Linked DNA regions of Homo sapiens. Each later gene encodes a partner of the first gene's protein in a complex. Each region holds a gene or a part of one and is shown in the gene's direction. Other genes may lie near its edges.

Region 1 (7,299 bases):
TGTGTTTGTGCTGCTGCACTCCAGCCTGGGTGATGGTGAGACCCCGTCTCAAAAAACAAAATAAACAAAGAGGGAGCAAACACAGGAGAAAGTGCACGCCTTGGGGTCATCCCCTGGCCCTCCAGGGCTCGCCCTGTGTGCACGCAGATGGACCCGCCCTGGGTGCATTTTCACATTTCTGTGACGTCAGTCCTGCTTCCTAAAGAACATAACCTGCCCAACAGGCTCACGGCACATACCTGTGTGCCCCAGCCCCACGCCCTCAGGCCAGCAGCCCAGGGGCCTCCTTTCACTCCAGGCCACAGGGCACTCCCTGGACCCCCCGTCTGCCCATCCATGGGGCTCTGCCAGCCTCGAGGCAGGCTGTGGTCTGAAGAGGGGTTCTGCTCAGAGCCCTTGCTCTCCCCCAGCCAGCCCCCTGCCCTGAGCCAGCTGGTGAACCTGTACCTTGGGAGGTCACACTTTCTCTGGAAAGAGCCCGCCACCATGAGCTGGCTGGAGGAGAACGTCCACGAGGTTCTGCAAGCAGTGGACGCCGGGGACCCAGCCGTGGAAGCCTGTGAGAACCGGTGAGCTAGGGGTTGACACAAGCCCTGCCACGCCCCCTCCTCAGGGACCCTCATCCCAGACACGGGGGCCTCGCATTCGGGAGGCGAGAAGGGCTGTGAGCAGCTTGGCCTCCCTTGCTGTGGGGCCTGTGTGGAGCCTACAAGACAGCGCACAGCCCCTGGCGTGTCCCAGAGGCTTCCTGGGAGGCAGCTGTGGTGATCAGCGCAGGGTACCGAGCTGCTGTTCCCGGGTGCCTCGGGCTGGAGTGGTGCCTTCGGGTCTTGCAGTGTTTCCACATGAGCTGTGAGATGATGACGAGTCTCTCACAGCAGCATCTTGGGAGTAAAGAAATCTGGCAGAGACGAGAAAGAGTCTCCTGTCCTGTGTGTGAACACTTCGGAGGCTCATGCCCTAATATGCTGCAACTGACAGGCATCCCCTTGCTGTTCTTGTCTCGTTTGTCTGCGCCCTTGGCCCTGTGCTAGTTCTGTGCATCAGCACCGTGGCTCTGTGCAGTGGTGTGGCCAGGCTCAGGACCGCCTGGGAGTGGTGCCCATTTGCATCTCCACAGTGAAGTCTGTGTGCCGCGGACATGAGGTGTGCCCGGGGGTGCCCAAGAGGCGCTGGTGCCCCCAGCCGCTGGCAGTCATGGGCCCGTCCGCGTGTCTGCTGTCCCCACTGGACTGGACATTCTCATGGACAGGAGCATTTTGTTCCCTGTACTGCTCTCCAAGAGCGATTTCCAGCAGGGACCAGTGCCTGTGCCTGTAGCCGTAGCAGTGACGATGGTGACACACCCAGGTGTCCCTTCATGGAGATGAACTCAGTGACTTCCCACAAGAAGCCACTGGCTACGGCTCTCATCGTTCTTGTTCTTTGGATGAAGAGGCTGAGTCACTGGCCATGTGGCTGGGATTGGTCCCCAGAGGCTCCCCAGCCGCAGGCCAGGGACCAGCCATGGTGCCTCTGCTCGAGAGTAAAGTGTACAGTTTTTGCAGCCACCAGAGATGCAGCGAGATGCCTCGTGCTGGGTGGGGGTGGGGGCCGAGGCTCCATGGCGGTTACCATTTCATTTGCTGTGCTTTATCTGCTGTGCCTTGTTTCTCCCCGGCCCTAGGCGGAAGGTGCTCTACCAGCGTGCACCCAGGAATATCCACCGCCATGTGATCCTCTCTGAGATCAAGGAAGCCGTCGCTGCCCTGCCCCCGGTAAGGGAGAAAGGCTGAAATGGGAGCTCTGTGTAAGCCGGTCACATGCACGTCCCTTCTGCTCCGGGCGGTCCACATGCAGGCGTGCGTGGTGCGGGCTCCCTCAGCAGCCCAGCCCCGCCACGGCAGGGGCAGGGTCTAGTGCAGAGGGCTCCTCCTTTCCTGGCAGCCCGGGTTCGGATGCTTGTTGTTTTGAGAGAGAAATCCTTTGGGGCTCAGAGCACAAGCTGAGTCGTCACCGTGGTGAGCTGCTCCATCCGTGGTCTTGTGAGCGCGTGGTGCGGCTGCTGGGGGATTCTCTGTAGTCGTGGGGTGTAGTCCTGCTCTGACGCCTCCTGTGCTGGAGGTGCCGTTTCTGTCTCAAAACCTAAGGAGTTTGTACTGTTGTTAAGGGATAAGATAGAACGAGTGAGAAAACCAGCAAGTCAGAGGGTCGCAGGACCGTGGACCGTCCACTGGGGACAGCTTAGTGCCTCCTGGTTTAACTTCAGCTGCTCTGCGGGCCCTTATGACCGGCATGGCTGGCTTTGTCTGGGGCTGTGAGCTTCTGACTCTCCTCAGTAGAGTGGCAGCACGTGGCACTGTGCAACCCGAGGGCAGCTCAGGGTCCCTGTAGCCTGCATTTGCTGAAGTGGGAGCTTCTGACACGTGGTGAAGATGTTGGCAGGCTTGAGCGGCACGTGACCCCCTTCCTTCCCCACCACACACTCTGGTGTGCAGGGCAGACGCCGTGCAGGTTCATCTCGACTCCCGTGAGTGTCCTGGTGGCAGAAGGACTGTCCCACCCTCACCCAAAGCTCGTTGGTACAAAAAGCACAGCCGTTTCTGTCAGACTCTGTGGCTATCTCTCAGCAGATGCATCCAGTCCATGCTGGAGTCGACAGAAGGACTCTGCTGGGAGAGGTAGAGGCCCCCTGGCAGCATCTGTAGCATCTTCGTTTTATGTCCCTTTCTGAAGGACGTGACCACGCAGTCTGTGATGGGGTTTGATCCTCTGCCTCCTTCGGACACAATCTACTCCTACGTCAGGCCAGAGAGGTACCTCCCTCCTTCCAGTTCCCACCTCCCAGCTCCCACCTCCCTCCTCCCAGTTCCCAGCTCCCAGCTCCCACCTCCCAGCTCCAACCTTCCAGCTCCCAGCTCCCACCTAGCAGCTCCCGGCTCCTGGCTCCCACCTCCCTCCTCCCACCTCCCACCTCCCAGCTCCCACCTCCCTCCTCCCACCTCCCACCTCCCTCCTCCCAGTTCCTACCTCCCATCTCCCAGCTCCCAGCTGCCACCTCCCAGCTTCTGCCTCCCTCCTCCCAGTTCCCACCTCCCAGCTCCCACCTCCCAGCTCCCGCCTCCCTCATCCTAGTTCCCACCTCCCAGCTCCCAGCTCCCTCCTCCCACCTCCCACCTCCCTCCTTTCACCTCCCACCTGCCACCTCCCGCCTCCCACCTTCCAGCTCCCGCCTCCCACCTTCCAGCTCCCGCCTCCCTCCTCCCAGTTCCCACCTCCCACCTCCCAGCTCCCACCTCCCAACTCCCTCCTCCCACCTCCCACCTCACCTCCCTCCTCCCTCCTTCCAATTCCCACCTCCCAGCTCCCAGTTCCCACCTCCCAGCTCCCGCCTCCCACCTCCCAGCTCCTGCCTCCCTCCTCCCAGTTCCCAGCTCCCACCTCCCTCCTCCCGCCGCCTAGCTCCCACCTCCCAGCTCCCGCCTCCCACCTCCCAGCTACCGCCTCCCTCCTCCCAGTTCCCAGCTCCCACCTCCTACCTCCCAGCTCCCGCCTCCCACCTTACAGCCCCTGTCTCCTCCCTCCTCCCAGTTCCCAGCTCCCAGCTCCCGCCTCCCTCCTCTCACCTCCCCTGCCACCTCCTGCCTCCCTCCTCCCAGCTCCCACCTTCCAGCTCCCGCCTCCCTCCTCCAAGTTCCCACCTTCCAACCCCGCCTCCCTCCTCTCAGTTCCCACCTCCCAGCTCCCACCTCCCAGCTCCCTCTTCCCTCCTCCCAGTTCCCACCTCCCAGCTTCCTCCTCCCACCTTCTAGTTCCCACTTCTTTCCTCACAGTTCCCACCTCCCAGCTCCCATCTTCCAGCTCCCAGCTCCCACCTCCCTCCTTCCAGTTTCCACCTCCCAGCTCCCACCTCCCACCTTCCAGTTCCCACCTCCTTCCTCGCAGTTCCCACCTCCCAGTTCCCACCTGCCAGCTCCCACCTCTTTCCTCGCAGTTCCCACCTCCCACCTTCCAGCTCCCACCTCCCAGCTCCCTCCTCCCACCTTCCAGTTCCCACCTCTTTCCTCGCAGTTCCCACCTCCCAGCTCCCGCCTCCCTCCTCCCAGCTCCCACCTCCCAGCTCCCACCTCCCACCTCCCAGCTCCCACCTCCCAGCTCCCACCTCCCTCCTCCCAGCTCCCACCTCCCGCCTCCCAGCTCCCACCTCCCGGCTCCCGCCTCCCAGCTCCCAGCTCCTGCCTCCCACCTGCCAGCTCCCAGCTCCCGCCTCCCTCCTCCCAGTTTCCACCTCCCAGCTCCCACCTCGCAGCTCCCAGCTCCCAGCTCCCACCTCGCAGCTCCCAGCTCTCTCCTGCAGCTCTGAGGTCAGGGCTTTGGGGCTCACAGGGACTGGCTGCCTCTTTCAGACCCAGATGCTGAGAGATGGGGCTCAGGGCTAAGTGGGTCTTTCCCCTCACAGGAAGGGAGAGGAGGAGAGGAACAGTGTTATTTGGGGGTCACAGCTCTGCGTTTGCAGGCCACGTTCTTTCCCATCTCCACCGAATGTACAAGCGCTTGCGTGTCGGCCTCTGTGGCAGGTGCGAGTGACACAGTGGAAGCAGGTGTGCAGTGAAGTGGGGAAAACATATTAATTTTAGAATGTAGAAATAAACATAAAATCAAAACTGCACCAGCCTGGCCAACATGGCAAACCCCGTCTCAACTAAAAATACAAAACTTAGCCAGCTGGGTGCAGTGACTCACGCCTGTAATTCCAGCAGTTTGAGAGGCCAAGGTGGGCAAATCACAAGGTCAAGAGATTGAGACCAGCCTGGCCAACGTGCTGAAAACCCGTCTCTACTAAAATACAAAAAAATTAGCTGGGCGTGGTGCCGCACACCTGTAGTCCCAGCTACTTGGGAGGCTGAGGCAGGAAAATTGTTTGAACCCGGGAGGCACAGGTTGCAGTGAGTGGAGATCGTGCCACTGCACTCCATCCTGGCGACAGAGGAAGACTCCGTCTCAAAAAAAAAAAAAAAAAAAAAAATTGGGCGTGGTGGGTTGTGCCTGTAGTCCCAGCTACTCAGGAGGCTGAGGCAGGAGAATCCCTTGAACCCGGAAGGAGGGGGTTGCCGTGAGCTGAGATCACGCCACTGCACTCCAGCCTGGGTGACAGAGTGACTCCATCTCAAAAAAAAAAAAAAAAAAAATCCTCCAGTAAGGTGTTTGGAGGAAGGATGGTGGCTGTGCTGAGACGGAGAGGATGAATGTGCCCTCACCAGGCTCAGGGGAGAGGGTCCTTGTGTTCCCCAGCAGAGTCACGATGTGCCGAGGCCCTGTGCCAGGAGCAGAGCACACGGCACATTGAGAGAACAAAAGCCCCATGGCCAGACCGGGAGAGCAGGGCTGCGGCGCAAGAGGGCCAACTGCCAGGCGGCCGGTGTGTCTGGCTTTCAGAATCCGGGTCATTGAAAGGCTTTTTACCTTTTCCTTCTGGGCTGGAAAGTACTTGCCTTACCCAGGCCCCGTCACCCGCACAGCGGTCGTCGTGATTATCCCTGCCGGCAGGGTGTTGCAGCATTGAGGAATCGCGGTTCTTTGCTGCCTCCCTCCGCTGTGGAGCCCAGGCTTTCGCCCTCCCTAGAGCTCCTGAGGCCTGGCCGCTCAGCGTCCTGTAGAGCCGGGCCGGTAGCCCTTCGCACCGTGAGGGTCTCCGCTTAACGCAGGCCCTGGAAGCTTCTGCCTTTGCGTAAGGAGTGGGTGCTGAAGGAGACGTTGAAACTGCAGCTTTTCTGAAAAGCAAGGCACCTGTGCAGTGGCCGAGGATGGCTGTGGGAGCCTCGCTCCGGACGCCACGCCTGCCTCAGCTGAGTTGGTCTCCCTCATCCTGTTCCCGCTGTCCACAGCCCCACCCTAAGCTGATGAGGAAGCCTCACGGGCCACCCGGGGAATCCAGGGCCTGTGCTCAGCTGCTGCTGCTCTGCCCCCTGGCGGCCCCTCCGTGTCCCTGCGAGGGAGGCAGCTGGCAGGCAGCCCCGTGAGCCGGGTTGGGTCCCACGAGTCTCAGTTCAGTGTCGTTTCTGACTTTTCTTGACTTTCTTTCAGGCTAAGTCCTATCAGCCATGGAAACACCATTGCTCTCTTCTTCCGGTCACTGTTGCCAAACTATACCATGGAGGTAGGTTGAGCTCGTCCCAGCCCCTGCCTCCCCAGTGGGTGCGGGCATATCCATTCCAGTGCGAATGCCTGGAGCCTCCTTGAACCAGGACTGTGCCAGCCGGCACAGGGAGCAGGGAAGGACCAAGGCTGCATTGTGCCAGTGGGGTGCCCATTCTGCCGGGGAAACTGGGGCCTGCCCAGATGGTAGCAGATGCAGGGCCGTGAGTCAGCCGGCTTGATCCCACTCTGTGCCTGGCTTGGTCTAGACACGGCATTTGGTTTTGAGAGCTTCCTCCTCACAGGGACCTGGGGAGGGTTCAGGGTCCGGTGCTGGGGCAAGGGCCACCTCGGGCTCCACAGTGCCTCCTGCTTGGGCCCCGGGCCCCTAGTCCCAGCACAGACAGCCCCCTTCTCAGACATGTCCCCTTGCTGCAGGGGGAGAGGCCCGAGGAAGGAGTGGCTGGGGGTCTGAACCGCAACCAGGGCCTGAACAGGCTGATGCTGGCTGTGCGCGACATGATGGCCAACTTCCACCTCAACGACCTGGAGGCGCCGCACGAGGACGACGCTGAGGGGGAGGGGGAGTGGGACTGAGCGTCCGCAGAGGTGACCGAAAAGCCGTATGATGATGTTCCCGATTTCTCTGTTGGTCGGAGTCGGCCAGTTGCCTGAAGTAGGGAAGCTGAGTGTGTCGCTCCCTGGTCCACTGTTTCTCCTATAAATGTAAATGGGTCACGCTCTGCCGTCCGCACCTTCTCCTTTCGCAGGCACTGAGCGCCGTCCCATGCCCTCGGATTCGAATCACACTCAGTCCATTCTCCTCCCAGTGGCTTGTGGGTGAGGTGGGGCCCAGACCCCATGCTTCCTGTGCTCCCAGGATCTGGGCACGGGTGGAGAAGGGGCCCCACGGGGTCTTCAGTGCAGGTCCCTGCTGAATGCCAAGGCCCTGGGTGCACGTCCTCCTTGAACTTGCTGTGGAGTTCGTCAACAGAGCTGCGTGCCTTGTTGGTAGAGGGTCTCAGGGCAGGGCTGGAGCAGAGAGGCCCCTATGTGGCAGCCGGCCTTCAGTCTTGTTCCTCCAAGCAAGTGGGGTGGAGATGTTGGGGTCCTTTGGCTGGATGCCACTATCTGTTGAATCTGACAAAATAATTTTCTTTTTTTTTTTTGAGACAAGAGTCTCAC
Region 2 (7,124 bases), on another chromosome or scaffold:
AAGTTTAAGGAATTTATAAAGTGAGAAACTATATAATTGGCATCTAGAAATAGAACTTTGCCTGCATCCCAGAAACCCGCACCCAAGTACCTTTCCTCTTAGAAATAACCACTATTCTGACTTCGTGGCATTCTCTTGTTATTCTTAATGGTTTTTAGTGCCTGAATATATCTCTAAATAATATTTGAACGGTCTTTACTACCGGAAAGTTCTTCCTTATGTTAAGATTTAATCCATTGCCCTAAAATTTTTTCATTAGTACTTTCTTTAACCCTTGGGGTTATAAATAACAAATTTAGCATTATTTTTACCCAGAAGAACCACAACTATTTTTTGTATTACATGGTTTCAATTGAATTCCACTATTCTGTTTGTTCCATTTGTATGTCTTTCTGGGAAAATATGATTCCCCAGTACACAACAATGTATTCTATCTCTGATTTACTCTCTAAGCATAGGACTGAAAAATCCCATCTCTCATTCTAGATTCCAGACATCTATTGATGAGGCCAAACATAGTGATGGTTAATGCTAAGCTTATAAGAGACTAAAATATTTTATATAAGACAGTGCCTGGGGCTCAGTTTCGGGCTACTGAAAAAAGAAATGGGAATGGTTTCCTTATAAAAGGATGAGTTTGGTCCTCTTGTCTCTCTCATTCTCTCGTTGCTCTTCCACCATGGGATGTAACACCAAGAAAGCCCTTTCAAGATGCCAGTCCTTTGATCTTGGACTTCCTAGTCTCCAGGACTGTGAGGCATTAAATTTATGTTCTTTATAAATTACTTAGTTTGTGGTGTTCTGTTATAGTAGTGTAAAATGAATTATGGGAACAAATAAAATTTGCATATATTTGAGGTGTGTATATATATATAAATATGTTATATATTATATAAATATATTATACATATTATATAAATATTATATAAATATATTATACATATTATATAAATATATTATACATATATCTATATATATAAATATTATATATATATATATTTTTTGAGACAGGGTTTCCCTCTTGTTGCCCAGGCTAGAGTACAATGGCACAGTCTCGGCTCTTTGCAACCTCCACCTCCTGGGTTCAAGTGATTCTCCTGCCTTAGCCTCCCAAGTAGCTGGGATTACAGATGCCTGCCACCACGCCCGGCTAATTTTTGTATTTTTAGTAGAGACAGGGTTTCAGCATGTTGACCAGGCTGATCTTGAACTCCCAACCTCAGGTTATACACCCACCTTGGCCTCCCAAAGTGCTGGGATTACAGGCGTGAGCCACTGCAGCCGGCCAATTTTTTTTTTTTTTTTTTTTTTTTTTTTTTATTAGACAGGGTGTTACTCTGAAGCTCCTGCTGGAGTGTGGTGGCACAATTATGGCCACCATGCCTTGACCTCCTGGGCTGAAGGGATCCTCCTGCCTCAGCCTCCCATGTAGCTGGGACCATAGGTACATGCCATCACACCTGGCTAATTTTTTTATTTTTTTGTAGAGATTGGTGAGGGGGCCTCACTATGTTGTCCGGGCTGGTCTTCTGGGCTCAGGCCATCTGCCAGCCTTGGCCTCCCAAGGTGTTGGAATTATAGGTGTGAGCAACCCGGCCCAGCCATGTGATGTTTTGATGTATGTATACACTGTGAGATGATTACTACAATCAAGCCAATTAACACATCCATAACCTCACACTTTGTATGTGTGTATTTGATATCCACTTTCTTAGCAAATTTCTGTTTTTTATTTTAATTTAACTTTTATTTTAAGTTCATGGGGTATATGTGCAGGTTTGTTATATAGGTAAATTTGTGTCATGGGGTTTGTTTTACAGGTTATTTCATCACCCAGGTATTAAACCTAGTACCCATTAGTTATTTTTGCTGACCCTCTCCCTCCTCCCATTCTCCACCCTCTGATAAGCGCCAGTGTGTGCTGTTCCCCTCCATGGGTCCATGTGTTCTCATCATTCAGCTCCCATTTATAAGTGAGAACATACGGTATTTGGTTTTCTGTTCCCATGCAAATTTCAAGCATACAATACATTACTATGAACTATAATCAGCATGTTGTACATTAAGTCTCCATAACTTACTCTACTTACAACCGAAAGTTTGTGCATTTTGACCAGTATCTTCCCATTTCCCCTACATCCCAAGTCCTGGAAACCACATTTCTGCTGTCTGTTTCTATGAGAAACTTCTAGATTCCACGTATAAGTGAGATCATGCAGTATTTGTCTTTTTATGTCTGGCTTATTTCACTTAGCATAATGTCCTCCAGGTTCATCCATGTTGTTAAATCCATGCCAGTTGCAAACAGCAAGATTTATTTCTTTTTTGAAAGCTGAATAATATTCCACTGTATGTATGTATGTGTGTGTGTGTGTGTGTGTACATATATATTTGCACTCATTATCCGTTCATCCATTGATGAAAAGTAGATTATCCCTATATCTTGGCTATTGTGAATAATGCTGCAATGAACATGAACATATATCTTCAGGATAGTGATGTTGTTGCTAGATCACATGGTAATTCTATTCTTAATTTTGTGAGGAGCCTTTATACTGTTTTGCACAATGGCTCTACTAATTTACATTCCCATCAACAGCATACAAAAGTTCCCTGTTCTCCACCTTCTCCCCAATGCTTTCATATTTTGGGCCATTCTGTATGGTTTACTGTACCGTATGACAGTAATGCTGTGCAGTATGTGCTATAGCCATTTTTGCATCTACTGGTACCAGTTCTGAAATAGCAGCGGCGCCCTTTCTGTTTAGAGTCGCCTTCTGGTGGTAGGAATTCTGGTTGCTACCATGTGTAGCCTGCAAGCCTCTAGCAGCTCTTTTGCAGCGACGCCGAGCGCCGGGCGCGGTGGCGCGTGCCTGTAGTCCCAGCTACTCGGGAGGCTGAGGCTGGAGGATCCCTTGAGTTCAGGAGTTCTGGGCTGTAGTGCGCTATGCCGATCGGGTGTCCGCACTGAGTTCGGCATCAATATGGTGACCTCCCGGGAGCGGGGGACCACCAGGTTGCCTAAGGAGGGGTGAACCGGCCCAGGTCGGAAACGGAGCAGGTCAAAACTCCCGTGCTGATCAGTAGTGGGATTGCGCCTGTGAATAGCCACTGCACTCCAGCCTGGGCAACATAGTGAGACCCTGCCTCTTTTGAGTTCTCACCTTATAAAGTAGCCTTTCTTCCCATGCATCTATCCTAAGACAAAAGAAATGCAGAATTTACATTCTTACAGGACTATTTTCCTCACTACACTGTGAATCCCCCCTCCCACCCCACCCCCATTGGGAATCTTCTTGTTTTTATTTTTATCTTATTTCACCATTATCTAGCTAAACACTTGCACATTCATGCTGCCAAGTGTTTATGGAGCACCGATTGTACACCAGGTACTGCGGTGAGTCTCAGGGGTACCAAGACCGAGGTTCGATGAGAATCCTGTAATCAATTGCAGAATGCTCCTTCCGAGAGCAGGACCCATCAAAATAGGAACTCCGTTTTGAGAGTTCGCCTCGATCGTTGAGGATAATCTTAGAAGGACCGAAGCAGTTCCGTTTCGTTACATTTCAAAATCTTATGTCAAAGTAAGCGCGCAGAAAGGGGTCCTTGCTCTTCTACACTGAGCCCTACGGCCCCCCTGTGGGGAAATACTCCTGATAATCATCTCGAAAATTGTTTCGACCAGCAGGGGTCACTATGAAGGCTGACTTGAGCCCAAGACACAATGGGGCACGGTAACCAGACTGGTCCGTAAGGGTTCCAGGAAGGAATGCAGTTTCAAGAGAACAGTTTGAATCTTTATTCGAATTTGAATTTTGGTACAATGAAGAGAGTCAGCTGCAACTTGACAATCGAAATCTTCAGAAAAGCGACACAAATACGTTCGCCTCGAGGAATATTGGGTCTTCTGCGCGGCCGTAGAGCTCCGCCAAGTGCGCCTGCGCGGAGGAGAAGTGGCGTCGAGTCCGGCCGGGCAGTAGAGGAACTTGCGGTAGTGACCCTCGGGCCTCGCCATGAAGAGCCGCTTTAGCACCATTGACCTCCGCGCCGTACTCGCGGAGCTGAATGCTAGGTACAGTACCCTAAGTGACGAGGCTCGTGTGGGGAGTGCAGGAGGCAGAGGCCGGAGTCCCATGGCGCAAACAGACCAGCTTGATATGTTTCCTTATTTCCTAGTGCGTCTATGGACCTGCCTAGGCCTGAGTGGGCAGGCGTGTGGTGTCTTTCCCGTGACCCTTAGGATACCCCTGGGGGTCCCAGGCACCTCGTGCCCCATCCCCCGCGTCCTCCCAGCTCTCTGGCTTGCCCCGCTAGCGCGAAGCTCTTGCATTGTTGGCCTGGGTTGTCCGGGTTGGGCAGGAAACGTTTGTTAAAACACGAGACGCCAGAGTGGTCGTTTGCTTCAGAGGTTTCCAGACTGGGGGCTTGGTTTCTTGAACACCTCCCTCCCCTCACCCCAGAGAGAGAGAGAGCATCGCGGTTTTAGCTGGATTGAGCAGATTTGGACTGAGATCTGGATTCTAGTCTGGATTCTATTATTCAGCCCTGTGAGCTTTGTCATATTTTCGGGGCCCTCTTTTATCTTTTTTTTTTCTCCCTTGTAATAAATTAATTGGATTATATTTTACTGTATTTCTCCCCCAAAATTGGGTCATTTGGAAGACGCAAGCTATAGTGTGTTGTTCCTAGAGCTGATAGACCACTTCTGTTTTTAAATCGTTACTCTTAAGTTTTGAACTGAATCTCCAAATGGCTTTCAGACTCTGCTCCTCGGCTGACTCCATATCCTTAGAGACTGAGATCCGCTCTTTCGAAGCTTTTATTAAATTATGTGTAGTTTTATGTTTCAGACAATAGTGTAACATGTTACATGTTTCCTTTATCTTTGCAGCTTGCTAGGAATGAGAGTAAACAATGTTTATGATGTGGATAATAAGACATACCTTATTCGTCTTCAAAAGTAAGAACATTTTATAGGCTTATTTTCTCTTTGACAATTAAGTATGAGATTACTGATTTTTTTTAACCTACATTTTAAGCCTGTTTAGCAATTAGCTTTGGCATATACCCTAAAGAAAAATTCGACTTTTTTCTTCTACAGACCGGACTTTAAAGCTACACTTTTACTTGAATCTGGCATACGAATTCATACAACAGAATTTGAGTGGCCTAAGAATATGATGCCGTCTAGTTTTGCCATGAAGGTAAACTTGTTACGCTTGAAGCTAAATTTTAAGAGATTGCTCACTAACAATTAAGTTTTTAATTGGGGTTTCCTTCACTGTTACGAATAAAGTGCAGATAAAATGAAGGTAAAGGGAGTGGTTGACAGATAATGGGTTGAATAAAGTGAATATTTATTAATTGATTTCTCCCCATTACCTTTCACATCCTGTTCTGCTCCAGATCTTCTGTTTCCACAGTCACTATTAGAGTTCAAGCTTTTATCACATTCAGCCTTACAGTTCCTTAACTGTAATTCACTTCTCTGCATCAAAACAATTCTAAATTAGACCAACGTTAATTTTTTTGTTTTTGTTTGTTTGTTTTTTTGTTCGTTTTTGAGAAGGAGTCTCGCTCTGTCACCCAGGCTGGAGTGCAGTGGCACAGTCTTGGCTCACTGCAACCTCTGCCTCCCAGGTTCAAGTGATTCTCTTGCCTCAGCCTCCTCAGTAGCTGGGATTACAGGCGTGTGCCACCAGACCCGGCTAATTTCTCTATTTTTAGTAGAGATGGGGTTTCACCATGTTGGCCAGTCTGATCTCAAATGCGTGACCTCAGGTGATCCGCCAGCCTCAGCCTCCTGAAGTGCTGGGATTACAGGCATGAGCCACCGCGCCTGGCCCAACATTAATTTTTTTAAAGTATAATTTTCATTAGTTACCTCACCTTTTATGGTTTCCTGATTTCTAAATCCATATTCTATAGCCTAACATTCTTGGCTTTCTGTGTTCTTTCTCCTCCCTGCCCCACCTTTTTTTCCTAGTCTTATCTTCCAGAGCTCACTTTTGTGAGTCGTATTCCTCTGTACCCAGTCAGTATTTTTTTTTTTTTGGAATACTCACTGACATTAATATGTTACTAAGTCTTTTTATTTTTCTGTTTTGTTTTTACTATTAAAACAGATTTTTACATGGGTGGGCATGCTACCCATTCTTTTATTGATGTAACATATAGATTGAAAATTCATGTGGTACACGAGACTTTCGAGTCACATATACTTAACTTTGAATTAATAGCTTTGTCAGAAAGTAATTTTATAACCTGGAAAAGTTACTTAACCTCTTGGAATTTAGTTTCTTTAAATGTAAAATGTGGATAGTACCTCCTTCATGAAATTATTGGATTAATTGAAATGATATATAAAACACCTAAAACAGACCAGGTGCGGTGGCTCATGCCTGTAATTCCAACACTTTGGGAGGCTGAGGCAGGTGGATCACTTGAGGTCAGAAGTTCAAGGCCAGCCCAGCCAACATGGTGAAACCCTGTCTCTACTAGCCAGGCGTGGTGGCACACACCTGTAATTCCAGCTACTTGGGAGGATGGGGCAGGAGAACCACTTGAACCTGGGAGATAGAGATTGCAGTCAGCTGAGTTCGCACTGTTTCACTCCAGCCTGGGCGACAGAGCGAGACTCCATCTAAAAAAAAAAGAAAGGCACCTGAAACAATACCTGACACATATTAGAACTCCATACATGTTCATTTCCTTCCTGCTCCGCTCCTTACTTTGGCAATGTATCTGTTATGGCATTGAGTTATTTCATTAGAGGCTTTACAGAGAAGAGCTTTACCCCCCAGCAATTTAGAGTCTGTTTTGGATTACAAATTAGGTAAGTGTTTCCATATCACAAGGGCTTTCACAAAATTCTCAGATTATTAAAGTTTAATTTATTTAATAGTAACCCAAAATAGTTCTTTTGGGGCCTGTCCTTAATAATAATGACAATAATAATGCTACCTGTTGTGTAGCACTTTTTAAGGCAGATGAATAATATGTATTTCATTTAAGTTGTTTAGCAACTCAGTGGACTGTGAAGAACAAATACAATTTCAGTTTTATGGATGAGGTAACAGGCCAATGAAATAGGACACTGGGATTGTGTAAACATCTCCAAATCA

What was found. The genes of interacting proteins can lie anywhere in the genome.
Region 2: TCF25 (region 1) and NEMF share a complex: the UniProt entries of both Homo sapiens proteins name them as parts of the ribosome quality control complex.

The regions. Positions count from the first base shown.
Region 1 is NC_000016.10:89,904,528-89,911,826, forward strand, and holds the end of TCF25 (ribosome quality control complex subunit TCF25), read left to right. Parts: intron 1-410; coding exon 411-569; intron 570-1,666; coding exon 1,667-1,757; intron 1,758-2,715; coding exon 2,716-2,795; intron 2,796-6,063; coding exon 6,064-6,136; intron 6,137-6,552; coding exon 6,553-6,711; 3' UTR 6,712-6,852; downstream 6,853-7,299. UniProt on the Homo sapiens protein: Component of the ribosome quality control complex (RQC), a ribosome-associated complex that mediates ubiquitination and extraction of incompletely synthesized nascent chains for proteasomal degradation.
Region 2 is NC_000014.9:49,849,643-49,856,766, reverse strand, and holds the start of NEMF (ribosome quality control complex subunit NEMF), read left to right. Parts: upstream 1-3,978; 5' UTR 3,979-4,013; coding exon 4,014-4,072; intron 4,073-4,891; coding exon 4,892-4,960; intron 4,961-5,101; coding exon 5,102-5,204; intron 5,205-7,124. UniProt on the Homo sapiens protein: Key component of the ribosome quality control complex (RQC), a ribosome-associated complex that mediates the extraction of incompletely synthesized nascent chains from stalled ribosomes as well as their ubiquitin-mediated proteasomal degradation.